Linked DNA regions of Homo sapiens. The protein of the gene in region 4 purifies or fractionates together with the protein of the main gene of each other region. This does not show direct contact. Each region holds a gene or a part of one and is shown on either strand. Other genes may lie near its edges. The genes, in order: SAMTOR, PHAX, RIMS1 and DPYSL5.

Region 1 (3,406 bases), on a different chromosome or scaffold from region 4:
GGAATAGCATTGCTGCATAGTGCTCAGAAAGTGTGGGAAAACGGAACAAAAAGCTTGAATCCATTTTTTTTTCTGCTTTTACATCAGAATTTATATTTAGGTTATACTTTCCTAGAGGAATGAACAATACATCTCTCTTATCCACAATGTGTAATTTGCTAGTTTTGTGTTTAAAGCTTTTCTTATTTCCTGTTCTACTTCTGTGAATTAAGGATTTTAAGCAGGGGCAAAACTGTAGCATCAGCAGGTAATCATTCTTGGATACAGATACTAAGTACATGTAGCATGCTTGTCTTCACTCTTAGGTCATAAGCTCCATGAGAGCAGGGGACAATGATCACTCCAATCCTTGCTGCTTTCCCAGCATATAGCACATGGCAGAATTCAAACATTTGTTTAATAAACAACAACAACAAAAAACCTTTCATATCATGAGGAAGACATCTGCTGTCCTGAAAGAGCTGATAAATTATGTAGCTTACTTAAAAAAAAAAAAAGAATATGATATGGTTGACATACAATAAAGTAGAATTTATGCTGTTGCCCTGCTTCTGCCATAAACATGACAAAACATGACAATGGGAAGTCACCTGAGTTCTCTGGATCTCAGTGAATAAATTTATGACATTAAGGGATTTAACAAAAATGAAACCCAGTGGGAAAATTGTACAAGTCACTCAAGTTCTAAATTGCTTCCCAATGCTGAAATCACTTAGTGAGATACATCAAAGACCACAGAACTTTCGGTTTACAAGTAACAGACAAAGAATACTAGAAAATTTAAAATTTTTAATAAATGTGCTTTGTTCACAAAATGTGAAAAAATACAACAAACACACACGTACATTTTCAGGTATGCTACCTCCCACCACTTGGCAACTATGGTAAAACCACATGATCTAGTCATGATACTGAAGAATCCAACCAAATGATTACCATTTGTTTTTGAAACAACCAAATTATTTTGGAGAACCAGCTGTGAATGTGACAGGAGGCCTCATAACTTCTTTATATCCAAAATGAAATAATTCTTAGGAGTACCCATACAGTATTAGAAGGCCCTATTAACTTCCACTTGTTATTACATACATGATCTGGCATCAAGCTGCAATGACTGCTTATACTTCAATACTTATACACTGAATTGGTTTTTGTGGAATGTGTATCAGTTTAAATCTGTGCCAACCTAATTGGAATAAGCTGAATTTACAGTAACAAATGATATAAATTCAAACAAATTTATACTAAGTGGTAGTAGGTTTTATAAAGAGACTTCCTCAGAGTACTACGTAAAATACATCATGCACACTTTGGAGCATAAGCAGAATCAACATCTGTAAACAATCAGAATTTATAGCACCAACATTTTCGCTGTAACACAAAGGCTGACTCCAGGGTCATACTATACCAGCCTTTCAAAAGCGCTGTTTTCATTTACTTTCAAAGCATTTTCATTTGGTGTATTGTTTTCTTTGCTCTTAAGATATTTACCCAAATCAAAAAGCAAACAGTATGGTAAAAGGTACTACCAAAATAGTTCAAAAGAGTTCTGTATTATCCTTAACATAGTGCTTTTTTTTCCTTCCCCTTCTCTTGGGGAAGCTACAAGACATAATCCTTCAGTGCTTAACTGGAAAGAACAGTCAATCCTAAATATTAAAGAATCTTATGCTGTTGAAAGTAAATGAAAAATTTCGAGTTATTTGTGGCATATTTGAGCAACCAATATTTATTGCATTTAATCAACTGACTTTAAAAAATTACAATCTTGTTACTTTCATTAATTTAGCATGTGAAATTTAATTAGAAATACTGGGTACATACACTCAACCATTTATATCATAAAGGATAAGTTTTATATTTCTAAATAAAGTTTGACATTCAAAGGTACTACGGCAATTCACAATAAGCACAAAAACATCAGCTTTACCAGAGTAAAGAAGTGCAGTTTATGAAATTTAGGATCAACTATTGAAAATGCAAGTTTCCTTTAAAAACATACAAACATACGCACAACATTAACCATGAAATCTGAAACTGTGATATTTCAGTGCAAAAACCTCAGTATGAGGTAATTTTAATGTAATAACCACTTGAAAAAAAAATCCACACAGTGGCACTCTTAAAAATGATAGCTTCCATGACAATTGCTGGCTGACAAGACAATGTGGACTAAATGTTCTTAACTGTTTAAACTAATCTTGTCTTGTTTGGACATATATTTTTCCCTAATCATTTGCTTCTGATTCAGAAACACAGAAAGGCATTTATTAATGTGGAAAGGGAAAATTCCCACAGCCAACTAATTGATATATTCAAAGAAAATTTTCTGATAAAGTTTAGATAGAAATTAAGATACCAAAAGGTCAAAACCATTTTATGAGATCACCAACAGAGGGTTAATTTTAGGTTTTTCCATATAATTTGAAACTTGTAGTGCGGCACCTCCTTAACGGAAAGGTGAGGACCCTATCAAAGTTGGTTTCAACAGAACATAAACTCTCTTCCAAGTGCAAACCCTTTCAAAAAGGTGTTTTAGGTCATTATTGAGTATTACATTGTTCCTTGCTTAAATAAAACATTTTGTAAATGAAGCCTAAGTTTAAGAAAAGTAAAAGTGAACTCTCAGGTAAATATACTTCACACCAAGGCCCAAATCAACAAGAAAGTTATGAAAATACTACTTTGGCAATGGTGTTTATTGGATAGGGCTAATAAAATTAGAATACACACTTTGGGGGACATCTCTCCCCCAATGTCTGATGCTGTCAAATGAGCTTTTAATATAAGGAAGAAATAAAAAGAATTATCACCAATTACAAAAAGTTCAGTAAATATTGGATCATCAGACAAAAAAGGAACATAAAATGACTTTCTGTAACATCACAATTTTAGTTAGAAAAAAGAAAAAGATAAGTGCATCACAAAACAACTAACCGATCTATTTTTCTGTATCACATTTAACTTGTGAGTCATCAAAGTGCAATCTACAGCTTTCTACATCTTAAAGTTTTCCATTCAATGGTTTATAGTCAACACTGAAAAGTTGAAAAGGAAAACATATAGCAAATTATGCTTGTTTTCACAATAGCACTAAAGAGAAAAAGGTACCTTTCTATGATAGTGCTAAATGCTAAAGTAACAGTAGTTTCTGCTATGACATGAGTCACTCTGCATGAAACTTTAAGCTTTCTATATAAGAATAAATTTTAAAATTGAGAAGTAGAAAAAAATAGCAAACTCTGTAAACCTCTGCATTTCTTTTATGCAAACCAGGTTTTCAGTACTGAGTTCATGTTAGTATTTCCAATTGGTGTAAGCAATTAGTTTAGGAGCCTGGACTGAAAGGGGCTTTTTGCTTCTATATTAACTTAAAAGTAATATGGGGTCTTCTAGCTCATAGAAA
Region 2 (3,097 bases), on a different chromosome or scaffold from region 4:
GCGTGGTAGCTCATGCCTGTAATCCCAACACTTTGGGAGGCTGAGGCAGGTGGATCACCTGAGGTCAGGAGTTTGAGACCAGCCTGGCCAACATGGTGAAACCCTGTCTCTACTAAAAATACAAAAAAATTAGCTGGGTGTGGTGGCGTGTGCTTGTAATCCCAGCCACTTGGGAGGCTGAAGCAGGAGAATCGCTTGAACTCGGGAGGCGGAGGTTGCAGTGAGCTGAGATGGTGCCATTGCATTCCAGCCTAGGCAACAAAAGTGAAAACTCCGTCTTAAAAAAAAAGAAAAAGAAAAAAAAAAACAACTATTGCTAAAAAACCAGGAAGGTGTGGGGAAGAAACAATCTTGATGAAGATAAAGTAGCTTCAGGCATCAACGCCCTTTAAAAGGCATAACTTTTGCTAGAAAAATTGGCAATATTTACATTAATATGTGGCATTTAAGTATTCAGAATAATTATCTTTCTTAATGTACTATTTCTAAAATCACCTCCCATAAATTGTCTTAGGGTCAATATCCAATTACCTTTTAAAAATATTTTTCTTGGCTATAGCATTTTTATGAAAAAACATTCAAGATTTAAAAATATAATCACTTGAAGCTCATTAAGGACTGCCAAAAATCTAATTTTATTTTTGCATCCTTTATAAATAAAAAGCAACCGATAACCACTTTCCTCTTAGATCCAACTTCAATGACCACATTCTCAGAACTACCAAAAGACTTCAAGTACACTGTCTGTAAGGAACAGTTTATAATTGCTGAATTTTACATTTTTGCTTAATATACAACATTTCTGCTTAATATATCAAGCATATTTTTGCTTAATATATTTTTGTAAACTATAGTTAACTCTTGGAATGTCTAAACTACCTTATTTTCTTCATTAATAAAAATGAGTAATTTAAAACTTCATGCACATGTAACATTTTACTATTATTATTTTTGAGACAAAGTCTTGCTCTGTCACCCAGGCTGGAGTGCAGTGGCACGATCTCGACTCACTGCAACCTCTGCCTCCTGGGTTCAAGTGATTCTCCTGCCTCGGCCTCCCAAATAGCTGAGATTACAGGCATGCACCACAATGCCCGGCTAATTTTTTGTATTTTTTTTTTTTTTTTTGAGAGGGAGTCTCGCTCTGTCGCCAGGCTGGAGTGCAGTGGCGTGATCTCGGCTCACTGCAACCTCCACCTCCTGGGTTCAAGTGATTCTCCTGCCTCAGCCTCCCTAGTAGTTGGGACTACAGGCATGCGCCACCACGCCCAGCTAATTTTTGTATTTTTAATAGAGACAGGGTTTCACCATGTTGGCCAGGATGGTCTCGATCTCTTGACCTTGTGATCCACCCGCCTCCACCTCCCAAAGTGCTGGGATTACAGGTGTGAGCCACCGCGCCCGGCTAATTTTTTGTATTTTTTGTATTTTTAGTTGAGATGGGGTTTCACCATGTAGACCAGGTTGGTTTTGAACTCCTGACCTCAAATGATCTACCTGTCTCAGCCTCCCAGAGTGCTGGGATTACACACATGAGCCACTGCGCCGGCATATGTAACATTTTAAATACCTGACTTCCTTAACATAAGGTAAGACAGTCTTAGGCAGGCTGCCACTGGGAATGTTTTTTTCTTTTTCTTTTTTAAATTAGAGACAGGGTCTCACTACATTGCCTAGATTGGTCTCAAACTCCTGGGCTCAAGCAATCTTCCTCTCTTGGCCTCCCAAAGTGTTGGGATTGCAGGTGTGCGCCACTAGGCCCAGCTTGAAAAATTTTTTAATGCATGTGGTAATCCACAGGAGATCACATTTAGTATATGACCAAGTTAATTAAGAAGTCAAAAAACACGTTAAATTTAAGCAGAATAAGGCTGGGTTCGGTGGCTCATGCCTGTGATCCCAGCACTTTGGGAGGCAGAGGTGGGCAGATCATTAGGCCAGGAGTTCGAGACCAGCCTGGACAACATGGCGAAAGTCTTTACTAAAAATACAAAAATCAGCTGGGCGTGGTGGTACACACCTGTGATCCCAGCTACTCAGGAGGCTTAGGCACATGATCGCTTGAACCTGGGAGATGGAAGCTGCAGTAAGCTGAGATCCTGCCACTGTACTCCAGCCTGGGTGACAGATCAAGACTCTAACTAAAAAACCCCCCAAAAAACAAATAGTTACTTGGAAAACTTCCGACATTTATTTACTTCTGGACAAACAAATGAGTGGGAAGAATCATCAGTATACACCTCTTAATTGTATTTTTTTTTTTTTTTGAGACAGAGTCTTGCTCTGTCGCCCAGGCTGGAGTACAGTGGTACGATCTCAGCTCACTGCAACCTTTGCCTCCCGGGTTCAGGTGATTCTCCTGCCTCAGCCTCCCGAGTAGCCGGGATTATAGGCATGGAGAACCACACCTGGCTAGTTTTTGTATTTTTAGTAGAGATGAAGTTTCACCATGTTGGCCTGGCTGGTCTCAAACTTCTGACCTCAAGTGATCTGCCCGCCTTGGTCTCCTAAAGTGTTGGGATTACAGGCGTGAGCCACCGTGCCTGGCCAATGTTAGTTTTTATCCTTAAAATTGCCTGAGTTCTTAGAACACAGAAAAAACAAATTTGAATGCATTTCTAACAGCTTAATAATTTATATGTCCCATTATGATTTTAGCGGAATGTTTTAAAGCAAAGCATAATTCACTGCAAAGATAAACCTGAAAAAGCAAACAAACTTACAAATGGTATGTTATGACCTAGACAAAACTGATTATCAACTAGTAATACTCATAATTAGCACATGCAACAGATTGAGAAATTAAATCCTGTGCTATATACTCTTAAGTATTTTGTCAGATATATCTTTAAATGTTCTATCAATTGCATTCCTTTCCACACATATTTTAAACAAGAAAACAATTGTCTTTCCTCCAGATTCTCATGTTTATCAGTGCAAAACGTTGCAATCTCAGTAAAAATGGTTTATTACAATGTTATTTTAGAAAGGCTTAGTCCTCAAACTGTTGAAAATGTACTTAAAAGATGTCCAAATCATGAGAATGATCAACTTCAATGGCTTCCTCTGCCTCCAACTTGGCTTCTGCATGTCCTTC
Region 3 (3,387 bases), on a different chromosome or scaffold from region 4:
TTTTGCCTCTTACTGACCCAGCCTAACAGATAATCTTGTGTCTTGTAGACCAAACAAATGGATGATTTAATAGGGTAAAATTCAGTCAACTGTTTAAAAACTATAAATAACTGATGCATTCATGTCTCCAAACTCTTTATTGCCTCAAATTTTATGTTGATGTAACTGTGTTTACTTTGCTTTACAAGTTAAAGCCAGCGTGGTCTATAAAAAGTTAAGAGCTCTTAGAAAGACAAGACTAGATCACAAAAGTTATTTTACTACAATGCAAGATGAAAGTAGTGCTTACCAAGTGTTTCATGAGAGGCGATGATTATTAAATACATGAGCACACTTTCAGGTAAGAAAAAATAATAAAATAACCTAAAAAGTTAATAATGTCTCTTTGAATATATTATTTTGGATATCTATCTATATTTGAAGATACTTTTATTATCTAAGATTCTATTAAAGATAATTCAGTGTAAATGTAGTGCTTATTTTTTGTTAAATTGGTCTCCTCTAAACCAAAGTTATATAAATTAGTCATGGGTTCAGAAGAAAAAGATGGAAAGAGGAAATATACTATGACGAGAGACGCAGGAATCAATTTTTTGATATGTCACGTAACTTGAAATAATTTGGCAATTGGACAATAGAGTTGTCTCTTTTATTAGCACATTCAAACAGCAGCAGAAAACAACCTTCCATTTGATTCTTACTGAGATTTATTATTTTTAATAATGCCACTTTTCAGAAGTATAGTCATGTGCTCACTTAGACAGGCTGACGAAGTGAAAACTTGTATGTGATGCAAAGTACCCTTTGGGCCATCGATTAAGACATAATATAGTGCAGTGACAAGTCAAGTCAAATGCCCGCAGCAGACAACAAACCCCAGCCTCCCCTTCCCATGGCCTGGCTCCCATTTTGCACCATAGAACCCACAATGGAAATCTGGCAAGACATAGAACACATATGGCTACTGACTGACATGAAAAGTAAATTTTATTAAACATGTTTACATACATGAATTGGAATTTCATTTAAAAGCACAGGGGAGTGTTAAGACAAGTGGTCAAAATAGAAAGATACTACCCAATTATAATCAGTTGATTGTTGGCCACTAAGACAGAACGGAATCTAGTAGAAGTGCACCAATGCTTCAGTTCCTCCTACTCAGCATGGTGAGCAGTGGTCAATCTGTGCCCTGTGGAATGATGGGCAGATAATTCTGGCATGTGTAAATAATAATAAATAATTCACTTGGTGCAGGCAGTATGTCTATGAATTAAAACCTAGTGTGTACACAGTGTCTACATGTGTTACAGCCCCACAGTAGGAATCTACACCAAAATATTTATTAGAAGGAATTTGGTCCGTACTACATCACGTTTTCCGGAGGGTAAAAAATAAAGTCCATCTATAGACATTTCACCACAGACCCAGAGACTGAGTCTGGCTAAAACCTGCAAAATGTCTATAACAAAAGTGGATGGCTTAGATTTCTTGGTTATTTCGGTATAGTAATTAACAAGCAAACTGTACAAGTACATGCAACATACAAGCTGGCCTATGTGGAACTAACATACATTATTAAATAACCTTTTGTTTCTTTTCTTTTTAAAATTTTTTTTTTTTACAAAATGTGCATGCAGCTCTGAACAGTTCCAAGTCATGCTGCTCTATTTGTGTAATCACAAAAGTGGAGTGACTCATAAAAGGAGGGAGAACATATCAATGCACCTGCAGAGACTGCAGTTTGTAGCACATGTACAGAATGTCACAAGGGAAATTCAAGGCCAAGAGAAACTAAATGAAAATGCAAATTGAAAGTTCATTTTGTTTATTTTCCCCCCAAAAAGTAAGATACTTTGCATTAAAAAATCAAGCTTTGTGCTTGCATCAATCTCAAAGAAATGTAAACTAAAATTCAATAAAAACAATAGTTTAGTGCAGAATATTTCAACTGGAATTTCCAGTGGAATATTGAACAGCTCATACCATGCTCTTTCCAGGGCAGATGGATGTGTCTACACTGAGGTATGGCTGAGAAGCCTGGGCATAGCTCAAAGTGTCTTAGGCTCAAATCCATTCCTAGTCACCATTTTTGGGAAGTCAAAGTATGGTTTATACACATGAGCATTTTTTTAATATCAGGAAGAAAAAGGCATTACAAGGAGTGTTTTCAAAGTACAATTATGCAGTTAGTTTTAGTCCCCAGCATTAGTTGCAGATTGACTTCTTTAAAAGTCTTCCATGCAAAACAATGGAAACCATAAATTAATTTTCTAGAATGCAAACAGATAGGCTCTTCATTAAAAAAGTACTTCTGTGATTATTTATTTTGGAAGATAACTTTTTGTCTCTTGGGTATCCACACATAAGACTTTAAATAATTATAAAATGAAAGCTAGTGAAACCCTTCCTTGGCTTCACCTTATGTAGCTGTTTAACACTTTGGGGAGATGCTACAGAGACTACTTCAGCCCTTTTTTTTGGTGCTTTTGGAAAAAAGAAGGGAAGAATCTCTGTTAGCATCATGAGGCCTGTCATGACACAGCCAAAAAAAAACTAGTGGAAATAACAGATGTGGTGAAAACAAAACAAAAACTCAAGAAACGAAAACCAACAAACAACACACAAATAAACAAAACACACAAAAGAACAAAACAACTCAAACATCAGGGAAATAACACTGCTTGTGGTCTGTGCAGAAATGTGTAGAATACAACTTTTCACAGAGTGAGAGTTTCCAGTTTGTTCAATTTGGTGTGTGTGTGTGTGCATGTGTGTGTGTACGTGTATGCGTGGATTTAAAGTTTCCTCTTTTTCTATTTGTTAGAAGCATCAGTGACTCTCACCAGCATGTTGATTCTTCCTGTAAATTTGATAGATTGCCTTGTTCTGTCATATGAAGCCATGTTTTAAATAACAATTGGGACATATTATTGAAAAACTACTACAGGCAAAACACAAGTTGATTGTCTGTCTCCAACAATGCTTTCGATCATGAAATATCTGGTTCAGATTATTATCCTGAAAAGTAGAGTTTTATTGGAATGACTCTGGTATGAGTTCACTATGATCGAATACAGGGAGGCCCAGTTGAACTTTCCAGAGATGACTGGGAAGCCCGCCGGGTGAGGGGAGTGAGTGTGGGATCCACCAGTGAGGACGGTGGGAACAATTTGTACCATCCGATCACCATGCTGGACAGGTCGAGTTCTTCCAACAAGATCTGAGCCACACCCATAAAGCATTTGTGGTCCATTCTGCCATAGTCTCCCCAGACAATCACCTGCAGAGATAGAGAAATGCAACATTACCTGGACTTCTCTCTGCTTCACATTCGAAGGGCTCAAAGCAACTATGCTGTAAAAGTGGGCCAGTCAGTGAAGCAGAGGA
Region 4 (4,529 bases):
TATATAATTCAGTTAAAATATAGTTAAAAACAACCAATGAGCAATGTTCCAGCTAGTCCTTCCAGATCAGTTTTGTAAATTCTGTGAGGCACCTCCTCAAAACACCATCCTTTAAAACCAGCAAGACATAGCCTACTGCTGACTCCCTATGGCCAGAAAGGACACTCAGACAAGAGGCCTTCACTTTGACAGCTATCATCTGTCCTGGGCAAAAGCCAACAGCCACAGCACAGTCCTTCACCTTACACACTAATCTTGTTAAGAAAGCAAATCCTGAGATTTCAAGGCTGGGTTAAGAGAACCAACAGGTTCTCAGTTAACTTAGTGGCAAATGTAAGTGGCATCAATGAGTTCTACAATGCCAAGTATCGCCCAGTCTGGGAACAAAAACATTCCTGCCTTTTTTTTTAATGAATGGCAATTTAAAATGATAACTTTATGCTAAAGATTCACCTTTAACTTGTCATCTAACCAGTTATCAAAGCAACAGTGCAACACAGAATTCTGGCTTTGGGTGTCACTTCACATGTCAAGGCGCTGCAGCGGTGACTTGCAAGGTGTTTAGACGGCGGGCGAGAGGCTGAGTGCGTGGAAAGCCCTGCTGAAAGCCTGTTTTAAGCTTCCATTCGGTTCATCTGCTTTCCCACGGGCAAGCAGCGCCTATCACAGAGCTACCCCAGTCTTAGGTCAGCAGACAATATGGGCGAAGTCTGCAAGAGACGCACTGGCTTGGGTGTGGTCACTGGCAAAGAAAAGCACTGGACCCCTAGCAGCGGCTCCCAAACCTAGAGCCTCACCCTTGCGGGATCATTTCCACCCGCTTCTCCGCAATTTGACCACAATCCGCACCAGCCCTTACGGCTCCCCCTGAGAAAGCACAGCTGCAGCCCCTAGACTACGGCCGCCTCGGCAGACAAAGCCGCTGCTCGGGGGAACCCGCGCTGCACCGAGGCGACCTCCAGTCTTTGGCACCTGCGTCGCCGCCCGGCAGCTCCGCGCCGCTAACCACGCCGCGTCTCGGCAGCGGGTGGACAGCGCGGGGCGGGCGGCGGCGCTGCACCAGAAGGCACCCGAGCCGGAGTGGGGGGGTGGCTGTCTGCAGGCCCCCAGGCCGGGGGAGCGCCTCCCACACGGGATTCCCGGCGTGGCCAGGCCCCCATAAAACCCCAAAGCCAGCACGTGCCCGGAGGTTCCGCAGGGAGTATTCCCAGCACCAGAAAACTGCACCCTCGCGTCCTGGGTGGCCCTGGTTTGTCGTCGGATGGACACCAGGGTCGGCTATTGTTCTCCGGGTCTCCCCGAAGGGAGATCCGCCTCCCTGGCAGCACCTGCTGCTGGGCAAAGCCTTTCAGCTCCTCGAGAAAAGGGCGTGCCGTGGGCGCCGCGGAAGATCACAAAACCCTAAGCGAGTCGCTACCGGCTGGTTTCAAGCCTGGAGACAAAGCTCCTCACCAAGCCAGCCCAGCCCGGTCCCGGATCTGCCATCCTGGGTCCCTAACCCCGGTCCGAGGGCCACGCCCAGCCGGCCACCTGGGCCGCGGGGCCCCGCGCCTGGAGCTGAGGATCCTCGGGCCCGAGACCGCCTCTCAGCTGCTTGCCCCTCCCTCCTCGGGAGGCTCCCCTTCCCAGGAGGCCCCCCTCCCCCGCACAGCGCGGGTCTTCTCCTCGCTCCCGTCCTCCCTCCTCAAACCCAGGCGGCCTCCACCCGCCTGCATCCCTCCTCCCCTCCCCATTCTTCAGCAGAACCAGCCTCGCCGGGCGCCACCTGCACCGAGCTCCTTCCCTCGTTCTTCGGACCCGCCCCCGCCCCTTCTCTTTCCTCCTCAAACCCTAGTTCCCACTCCCTGCTCCCCGAGACCCACTACCTGTCCTAACCCAGCTCCCCAGCCTTCCCCATCCCCATCTTTTCTCAACCGAGGCCTCCCCTCGCCCTCTCCCGGCTTCTCTCCAGCTCAGACTACAGCCCCGTCCCCAGGCCCGGGGCGTCGACGTCGGTGCCCGCTGAGATCGATGCTGCAAGGCGGGCTCCCGCGCTGGGCTCCAGCCGAGGGACCCGGCTCGGCGCCCGCTCCGGGCTGGGCAGCCGCAGGAGGCCTTTGTGGCTCAGGCGGGAGGCTCGGAGGCGGCGGGCGAGTCCTCTGCAGGCGTCCGCTCCGTTAGCCGGGCGGTGGAACAGACCGCCGGGTCGGGTCCAGGCTGGGCAGATCCCAGCTCGGAGGCGAGAAGGACGGAGGGTGTGTATCTGGGTGGTGTGTGGGACCGGGGACAGCGCAGATCCTGGGACCGGCAGGACTGGCCCCCGGCCAGAGGCGCCCCCGCCCAGCCCTCCAGCGGTCCACTGCACCGCGCCCGGCTAGGAAAGCGGCCCACTGCGTGCTAGGCGCGAAACCCCTCGGCCGAGCCGCCTCCTCACCCCAGGGCTTTGCAACCCCGCGAGCACGCATTAAACGCTTACTATGAGCAAGGCCCGGCACGGCGCTTCGCGGGCGTACAAAGAGGACCCCAAGAGCGCCCCGGCTTAGCCCCGATGGCCACCTCCCAACCCCAAACCACACCTCCCGCCGCGTCCCCTGCGGCCGGGCCCCAGGCTCACCCGGCTCCCCGCCCTTTTGTGCGCCTCACGCAGAAACAGAAGGGGGAGAGGAGGATGTCCTAGCCCGGGAGGGGTAAGCCCACCGACCCCCCTGCCATCACCCACTCCTCCGAGATGCTGCGGCCGCGGGGGCCCGTGGCTCGGTCCGTCTCCGTCTCGCCGCGGCGCCGGAGCTGCGGGTGCTCGGGGCGGCGGCGGCTGCACGCGCGCTCGCTCGGGGGCCGCCTCAGCGCGCCCAGCGCGGGAGTCCAGAGTGGGGAGCGGGGGAGGGGCGCGTGTCGGGGGCTGGGAGCGGCCTCCGCCAATCACCGCGCGGCCGGCTCCTCCCGCCGCTCCCCACCTCAGCTAGCAGGTTAAGGGGAGGCGGGGACAGGCGGCGTCCCGCATCCTTGGCGCCGCGCGCCGCCGCCGCCTGGGGACTACAACTCCCGGCAGGCCCTGCTGCAGGGCCGGGGTCCGAGAGCGGACGGAGGGCGCGGCCGGAGAACTCACCGACCCCCCTAGCACCCGGCTCCGCGTTCCCTCGGGTTTCCATGGCGACTCAGGACACCACAAAGCCTGGACGCGCTGAGGCACGGGTCCCCAGGGAGGGCCGGGGGCGGTTCCGGAGGACACCCCGCCTCCCCTCCCCCAGCTGGATCCCACCCCAGGGGCTGAAACAATGCCGCGGCCGCCTCTCCCGGGCTGCGGCCGCGCTGCCCTCCGCCGCAGGACCCCGCCGAGGCCGCCTGGTTCGCGCCAAGACCCGCTCCGACGCCCGCGGGATTGCGGGATGCAAAGGGCCGGGTGGGCGTTATAGGAAAACTGTTCTCATGAACAAAGTGGACGGCCACTTGGGGCCACCGCAGTTCGCATCTGCACCCGGGGAGGTCTCGAACCCGGAGTGCGTTCTCTCCACTGAGAAGATTTTGCCCAGCGCCACGCGGGTGCTTCCCTGTCCAGAGCGCTCAGGCCCAGTGCCTGTCTTATTTCTGGCTTCTGTCAAGGGACAGCGAAGCCTTTGGAAATTATTTATAACCCAATTTACATTCGCTTCACCTGTTTCTTCATGTTTAAATACATACATAATTTACCAAAATAAACAAATCTAAAAAAGGAGAGGAAGGATCATCCCCGGTTTGTCCCACCTCCCTAGCTAATCCCGGTTCAAGCCTTTGCCATTGATCTGTGTTATTTTCTGCAGTTGTAATAATAGTTTGGATTAGTCATTTGCCTCTTTGCACTTAATGTCACTCCAAAGGCGTTGCGATGCGCGTTAAAATGCAGCATCAAGGACCTCCAAGCTGCAGCTGCAGAATCCCTCCCTCCCCGGGCTCCCCGGCGATCCGGTGGGGAGAGGAGTCCCCTGGCAGCCATGGCCTCGTGAGGTGGTTCTCTTTGCAGGATACTTTCAAACAAAATGGTGTTCACTACTCCGGGGGCGTGGAGGGGGTCCCCTCTCCCCATCTCAGCAAAATCTACCCGGGCGCAGGACCCGCAGAGCCCGCCAAGGCGGGGTTCCCTGCCGTCCTTCCCCAGAGAGCTTAGGGCCTGGACCAGGCCAGGCTGGCCTTTGAGGGATGCATTTCTGGATTACCCCACCCCTGAGTCTGCACTCCTTCTCCCCTTCCCAACTCCCGCCTGCTTGGTAAGCAGAGAGCAGGGAGCCCCCAGAGGAACCTCAAAGCATCCCTAACCCAGTGCAGCCCGGGATGTGGCTGTGAAAACTGCTCCAGCTTGGGGCACTGCCCTATGGATTCTCCAGGGCTTGCCCGGACAGGGATGTAGGCAAAATGGACTGGGCTTCAGGGAGGTGGCGTGGAGCTGCCAGCGGCCTCCCGGCGGCGGGGTTCCGAGACTACCGCGCGCGGGCGGTGCTGCGCTTTTTGCTTAAGGGAGAGAGAGCCCTCTAGTGACTGTAAATGTTTTCTGCAGCGTCTCGTAGACCTTAAATTTG

Evidence for each region.
Region 1: the proteins of DPYSL5 (region 4) and SAMTOR purify together in Homo sapiens (co-immunoprecipitation; one large-scale study listed by IntAct). This does not show direct contact.
Region 2: the proteins of DPYSL5 (region 4) and PHAX fractionate together in Homo sapiens (co-fractionation; one large-scale study listed by BioGRID). This does not show direct contact.
Region 3: the proteins of DPYSL5 (region 4) and RIMS1 purify together in Homo sapiens (co-immunoprecipitation; one large-scale study listed by IntAct). This does not show direct contact.

The regions. Positions count from the first base shown.
Region 1 is NC_000007.14:112,818,378-112,821,783, forward strand, and holds the end of SAMTOR (S-adenosylmethionine sensor upstream of mTORC1), read right to left. Parts: coding exon 3,367-3,406; 3' UTR 770-3,366; downstream 1-769. UniProt on the Homo sapiens protein: S-adenosyl-L-methionine-binding protein that acts as an inhibitor of mTORC1 signaling via interaction with the GATOR1 and KICSTOR complexes.
Region 2 is NC_000005.10:126,624,767-126,627,863, reverse strand, and holds the end of PHAX (phosphorylated adapter RNA export protein), read right to left. Parts: coding exon 3,020-3,097; 3' UTR 612-3,019; downstream 1-611. UniProt on the Homo sapiens protein: A phosphoprotein adapter involved in the XPO1-mediated U snRNA export from the nucleus.
Region 3 is NC_000006.12:72,400,389-72,403,775, reverse strand, and holds the end of RIMS1 (regulating synaptic membrane exocytosis protein 1), read right to left. Parts: intron 3,281-3,387; coding exon 3,062-3,280; 3' UTR 631-3,061; downstream 1-630. UniProt on the Homo sapiens protein: Rab effector involved in exocytosis. May act as scaffold protein that regulates neurotransmitter release at the active zone.
Region 4 is NC_000002.12:26,846,424-26,850,952, reverse strand, and holds the start of DPYSL5 (dihydropyrimidinase-related protein 5), read right to left. Parts: upstream 2,822-4,529; 5' UTR 2,699-2,821; exon of another isoform or gene 2,456-2,698; intron 1,548-2,455; exon of another isoform or gene 1,453-1,547; intron 1-1,452. UniProt on the Homo sapiens protein: Involved in the negative regulation of dendrite outgrowth.